Homo sapiens: one gene and its partner. The protein of the gene in region 2 interacts with the protein of the main gene of each other region in a biochemical or structural test. Each region holds a gene or a part of one and is shown on either strand. Other genes may lie near its edges.

Evidence for each region. The genes of interacting proteins can lie anywhere in the genome.
Region 1: the proteins of PACSIN2 (region 2) and WASL form a complex in vitro, tested with the Homo sapiens proteins (one study listed by BioGRID).

Annotation. Positions count from the first base shown.
Region 1 is NC_000007.14:123,704,004-123,707,503, reverse strand, and holds part of WASL (actin nucleation-promoting factor WASL), read left to right. Parts: intron 1-677; coding exon 678-764; intron 765-1,130; coding exon 1,131-1,227; intron 1,228-2,846; coding exon 2,847-2,870; intron 2,871-3,500. UniProt on the Homo sapiens protein: Regulates actin polymerization by stimulating the actin-nucleating activity of the Arp2/3 complex. Involved in various processes, such as mitosis and cytokinesis, via its role in the regulation of actin polymerization.
Region 2 is NC_000022.11:42,886,150-42,889,649, reverse strand, and holds part of PACSIN2 (protein kinase C and casein kinase substrate in neurons protein 2), read left to right. Parts: intron 1-851; coding exon 852-1,007; intron 1,008-3,500.

The sequences.
Region 1 (3,500 bases), on a different chromosome or scaffold from region 2:
AGATTAAACATATTTTTTATACTATGGCAATAGATATGGCAGCCATCATGGCACTCTTATCCATAGTTTAACCTTGATACATTTTAATTATCAGTCTCTTTCTGCATCATGATTAATACTACTTATACTAGTATATAATTAGAAAGGTACTCTGCAAAAGTTAAGAATTTGAAGATGGTTAATTAGCAGTACAAGGAAGGTATATTTGACCCTCCCACATCTATAAAATTGAGGAAAAGAACATAAAGTATTCCTGCAGTGTTTGATAGTACATTGTCTAAATATTGCTGGTGGAACTGTGCTTTGGTAATCAGTTCATGTACAAAAGTATCCTATTCCTTCTATGTAACATTGATGACCTAGTAATTATTCTGGTTATTATGTATTTGACCAAGTAGCTGAATTTGGAAATGGTTGGCTAGTGAGATTATATCTTAGCTGAATTAAACTGACTTGATATGTAGGTTTTATGAAAGATACGTTATCCAGTGTTTTCAGTTTTAAGAAATTACTGATTAGATTATGTGACACTATTTATATATTATAAATATGTTACATGTGTGCATTAAAAGTTATTTTTAATATAAACAGTTTTCTTAATATGAGTCATCTTCTTTGTTTTATTCCTAGAGATTATGTTTTGGTAGTTCTTATTTTAATTTTTAACTTTTTTCTAGGATGGGAAACTATTGTGGGAACAAGAGCTATACAATAACTTTGTATATAATAGTCCTAGAGGATATTTTCATACCTTTGCTGGAGATGTAAGTCATATTTTTCTTTATTGCCATCTTTACTTTTTTCATTGCTTGCCTTTTCTAATCCAAATTATTTATAGAACCTTATTGAAAGATCAAATTCAATTTGCTATTTTATTTTTTTGCTGAAGATGAAATATTCAAATTAGTATATGTGTCTGCTGTGATAGGTAACTTCTCTAATAGTAATCTTTTACTTGAACTTCTTCATGCTTTTGTGTTAAGTTATTCAGATCATAAAATAATGTCTTATCTGCTAGTAAAATTAACCTTTCGTTCTTTAGAAATATACTTCTTTTCCTCATTGTTTTTATGATATAAAGCTAAATTCATACATTCTGTTGTTTCCCCTTTGTGATGAAAATATTTCAGACTTGTCAAGTTGCTCTTAATTTTGCCAATGAAGAAGAAGCAAAAAAATTTCGAAAAGCAGTTACAGACCTTTTGGGCCGTCGACAAAGGAAATCTGGTAACCCTTTTTTAATTACTTAAATCAGGCCAGCAAACTAATGCTCATGGGGCAAGTGTGGTCCATTTCCTGTTTTTTGTAAATAAAAGTTTACTGAAACTTAACTGTATTCATTGGTTTACATGTTGTCTTTGGCTATTTTTTGTCACAACACAGTTAAATAGTGATGACAGTGATATATGGTCCTCAAAGCCAAAATTATTATCTGAAATATTTACTATTTACAAAAAAATTTGGTGGTCCTTACCTTAAAATAAATAATATTTTTGTTGAGAACTATTTTTTTTAGATTTACCGAAGGGCCCAATACAATAACCTTTTTTGTTGATAAAATTTCATATATATTGACTTTTAATTTTGCATTTGTGATAGCATTTTTTGTAAAGTTTTAAAAGTATTTTATACTTTGTAAACAAAGACTTTAGGTAAGCTTAGAAGCAAATAAGCAGAGTTGCTAACAAGATCTGTAAACATTGCCTTGTCTTTCTATTTTGTTCCTAATGCTATATACTATAAAACCCATAAGGAACTTAGTTTAGTGTGTGAAACAACTCTAACACATATAAAACAATTATAGAACAATGCAGGATAGTATAAAGCTTTAAGTTAATTGGAGTAGAACTATTACTTGACAACAGTGAACCAGGTGTTTCTCTTGTAAAGTGGAGAAGGGTGACTAGGAAAGGGGAACCTCTCCAAAATCATCTTAAGCAGATGAGTTTCAGAAGAAAGAACATGTGCTTTCATCCAGTCCTATAGTTCCAAAAACTGTATGCCAATGACTCTCAAAGTTTTTTCTTCAGTACTGACACATCTTCCCTGACCTTCAGACTCTGTCTACTCAAGTGGCAGAATAGCCTTTAGACTTAACACGGTCTGAGCAGAATATTTGATCCATGTCCTGTATCCTGAACCTTAGCCCCACTCAGATCTGTTCCTATTCTTCTACTAATCTTCCTTGTTTCAGTAAAAGGCATTTGTTCCATCTTATCCCTCAGGCTCACCATGGTCCCTCATAAATCCTATCAGAGTCCTATTGACTCTGCCTTCAAAAACATGTCCTGTCTGACTATTTCTTACCATTTCTGCTGCTACCATCCTAATCCAGGCCACCATGATCTGTCAGCTGGGCTGCCACACTAGCTCTCTGACTGGTCTTCCTGCTGCTACTCAATCCTTTTTACTATCTCTTTTCTATACAGTAGCCAGAGTAAACTTTTAGAATTGTAGATTAGGTTATATCACTTTCTCTATTTAAAATTCTGTAAGAGCTTCCTATCATATACACATAAAATCTATAGTCCTTAACCATGGCCTGTGGAACCCTACATGATCTAGTCCCTGACTTTCCTTCTTGTCTCCTTTCACTGTGCCATTTGCTCACTGTAGTCCAGTCTTCATGATGTTCTTTCATGTTGCACCCTCCTTGGGGCCTTTGAATGTATTGTTCCCTTACTTATTTTATTTAGATCTCTACTTAAATGTCGGGTCTTCTGAAAAATCTTCCTTAGTCACACGTATGTCAATTTAGGAATAAGACAGTTTAGTGAATTAATTTTTTTATGTTGATGTTGTCTTACATATATTTAATAATATTCTTCTAATTTATTTTCTAACAGAGAAAAGACGAGATCCCCCAAATGGTAAGCTTTTTGACAATTATTAATCTTTTAAGATTTTAGATGACAGTTTAATCCTTGTGGAAACATGTACCATACATTAGTAATATTTAGTATCTTTTACATGTTAATCCTTGTGGAAACATGTACCATACATTAGTAAGTAATGTTTAGTATCTATGATCAAATTATACAGTTTATTGTGTTCCTATTTTTAATTAATGATTGACAGATGAGACTTAGGAAACAATATTCTTTGATATTTTTCTAACATGAAGAAAGAATACATAGGGTGAAGATCACTAATACTTATTATATTTTAATTCTGGATTCACAGTTGACTAAGTATACAATCGGACCTTAACATTTTTCCTAGAGGCAGTACATTTTGTCTAGAATATTTGTTAATGTCCTACTTTAAGATTTACCTTTCATTCTTATTTCAAAATATTATTTCACATTGCTTATGTGTTATATGAAGCCCCTTTCAAAATGAACACCTACTGTTGTGGTGTATTTAGAACTAATTTAGCTCTGTATAATGCTCTTTAATTTGATAATGACCACTTGAAGTATTATGAATTCATTTTTTAAAAAACATTGAATACCAGAGAGTAAAAGCAGAATACCAGGATGTAAAAGATAAGGTCTCAG
Region 2 (3,500 bases):
CTGGCCTTGCGCTGCCTTCCTCCGCCTCAGAATCATCCAGAACATGCCTCTGTCCTTCCGGATGGTTTTCTCTGTGTCTCCTTTTCTCTGTGTCTTAGCTTTTGTCACATCTCCTTTCTCTTCTGTTTTGTCCCTGGCCCCATTCATAATGAAACTGTCTGTGTCTCATGAGGCCTTTGCTAATAAACTCCTCCTTCCCTCTAGAATGAAATTTGTGGCTTTGGCTCAAATAAGGAAGGATCTGTTAAGAGTGTGTGTGTGTGTGTGTGTGTGTGTAAAAACCATTAAAACCAGAGGAAATGTGGCTGATGGCCCTGCCCCCTAGTATGGTCCTCTCTCTCATGCTGGGTTCCTCCTTGGAACTTTCTTTGTATTTGCCGATCCTGCGGCCTGGCATGGTCTTCCTGGGATGCCCATAACCCCTCCATGTGCGTGTTCCATGTGCGTGCTCCATGTGCGTGTTCCATGTCATCTCAGTGGCTTTCTCCACCCACCCCATGCTCCGTCTCAGTTGTCCTCCCCTACACTTAATGCCCTCTAATTGACTCTGGCATGTAACTTTTCCTATACTGTATCTGCCTCCTGCAACTCAAATGAAAGCTTCACAAAGACCTTGTGTTTCTTGCTGTGTTCCTGGTGCCTCGAACCATGCACAGGACAAGCAAGTACTCCATGAATATGTGTTGAGTGCGTTCCTGTTGTGACTGGTTGCTATGATAGTATACATACAATTTTGTACCTGCCTTTTTCTCCCCTCTTGGTAGCACAAGCATTCCCATGGTCTGTGTGACTTCTAGTGAGGATCCTGAACTCCCAGTGACATGGCATTCAGGAACTCATTCTCCCTGTAGGTAGAAGCAGCAAAGAAAGCCCACCATGCAGCGTGCAAAGAGGAGAAGCTGGCTATCTCACGAGAAGCCAACAGCAAGGCAGACCCATCCCTCAACCCTGAACAGCTCAAGAAATTGCAAGACAAAATAGAAAAGTGCAAGCAAGATGTTCTTAAGGTAAACTGTACACTTGTTTTTACACGTCGAGTGTCACCGTGTCAGTTGTTGACGTGTCTGGCATATAGCCTTCTGTAACTGCTTGGGTGAATGGGTGGATAGAGGGATAAATAACCAATAAAACACACCCCTGTCCTCAAGAAGGCCACAGGTGAGTGCCCTAGCACCTCGCCTCACCATAGCCACTGTACCTGCTCAGTCAAGGGACAGAGCCAGGCTCTGGGCAAGCCAGGGGTAAGAGACAGCTCTTGGTGCTCAGAGACACAAGGACAGCTGGGATTGCTGCAGGGAGCTGCTTGTGCCAACATGGGCGTCGCCAGTGGTGGGTGTGAATGGGTGTGGCTGGTGGCAGGTGTGAATGGTTGTGGCCAGTGGTGGGTGTGAATGGGTGTGGTGTGAGCTGGTATGGAGGGTTATGAGGACCAAATCACCAGTGGCCTGGACAGCCAGGCTGAGTAAGGAGCTTAGGATGCTGCTGACCAGGAGCCACTCAGGAAGGCCTGAGCCTGGGTGGGATCAGGGAGGAGGTGAGGAGGGTGAGATGGTTTAGAAGGATTGCTCTGCTTGTGTAGGGAGAGGGGCTGGGGGCAGAGACCTGGGGGAGGGACTGCAGGCTGGGAGCGCTTGTCTGGGGGAGCCAGGTGGGAGGGAGGATGGAGGGGCCCTGCAGTCTCCACAGTGACAGGCCCCGAAAGTGAGGCAGAGGCTGTGGAGCCAGGGGTGGCAGAAGGGTGGTCTTTGGCCAAGGAGAGACCGTGACCAGGCACTGTGGCATCATGGGTGCCCTTCCATTTCTGTTGTGAAGCGGAGATTTTCTGCCCCATGGGTTAATGAGAAATCATTGTGTAAACTATTACATGCTCCGCAGGTGTAGATAAGTGATTCTGCCTGGAAGGTCCTGGAGTCACAGGACTTAAAACCAGACAGCGTCATCGTCTTGTGATTTAAAAGTTCACAGGAAGGGAGGGGCTCAGCCCTCGGCCCCACCTCCCCTCCTTTGGTCAGCCATGAGGGGTGAGGGCTGGGGGGTGTGATTGCCGAGGGCCTGCCCTGCCTCGGTGTTTGGAGAGGAGATTCCCAACCAGGATTTGCAGAGAGAGACGGAATGAGGTAGAGAGAGGCTGCACTCCAGGAAGAGGACATGGGCAGAGGGGAGGCAAGAGGCCTAAGCTGGTTTCACTACCCACCAGCCTTTCCTGGCCCCTGTCAGTTAGGTGGTGGCATCCCTGTTTTGTGAATGAGGAAACCAAGATCAGAGAGGTTAAGTCACGTGCCATCCAGCAGGTGAGAGCAGGAACTTCTGACCTCAAGCCCATACATATGCCCTTTCTCCACTGTTCCTCACTGCTATGCCGTCGGTGTAGCAAGGGGAACACGTCATCTACACGAGAGTTCGTCACTCAGACCAAGTGTCAGAATCCTCTGGGAAACCCCTCTCACTCCCATTGCTGGAGCCAGGAATCTGGGCTTTTGAAGCAGCCCAGGTGCCTCCACGGTGGGATCAGGTGAGGAGCCTGGAACCAACTACTGAGTGGGAGGCACCTGGGCTCAAGAAGCACAAGGTCCGGGAGAACTCTCGGGCCTTTGCCAGAATCCCAGGGAATCAGGTGCCCAAAAAGGTGCCTAGAGGAAAGATGGGGCTTCTCCATGTTGGGCGGGGGCGTGCCTGTGTGAGAGAAAGGGAGACAGAGATGGAGAGGAAGAGGCCTTTCATGTTTGACAGCCACCCAGAACATCAACTCAGGCTTTTGCAGAACAGGCCCAGGGCTCGAGGTTGGACATAAGCGCCTGGCAGGATGACTGGGACAGTTTGTAGTGGGTTCCCTCCTGGGACCCTCCCTGCCTCTTTGGTCTGGCCAGTGACTGCAGGATATGAGAGGTCCTTGTGTGCCTAGAGCTCTGGAGAGGAGGCCAGTCCCTCCCCACCACCCTTCTTGACGCAGTTTCCAAAATCCAGCACACAGCCTGGGAAACATAGTGAGACCTCATCTCTACAAAAAATTTAAAAACTTAGTTGGGTGTGGTAGCACGTGCCTGTAGTCCCAGCTACTTTGGAGGCTGAGGCGGGAGGATTGCTTGAGCCCAGGAGTTCAAGGCTGCTGCAAGCTGTGGTCACACCACTGCACTCCAGCCTGGGTGACAGAGTGAGACCTCATCTCTAAAGTAGGTAAGTAGGTAGGTACATACATACCTACCTACCTACCTACCTACCTACCTACCTACCTACATACATACCATTGCTGACTGGTTGCACATGTACTTTCATGTTTCTTATCAGCCATCAACTACATCTTGTAGCATCCATCATAAAAGAACTTTTTGCATTTAGTGCTAAAATATTACAATCCACCTAAGGGTGAAGGCCGCCTCTTGTTTTACTCCATGGGTGTTCGCTGAGAACTTTCTATGCCCTGCAAGGGGATTTCCAGAACAGTGATGACCCTGCTGAGTACCTGGCCTGTGCTGGGGGCAGGACTTGGGGCTAGCAGGGTC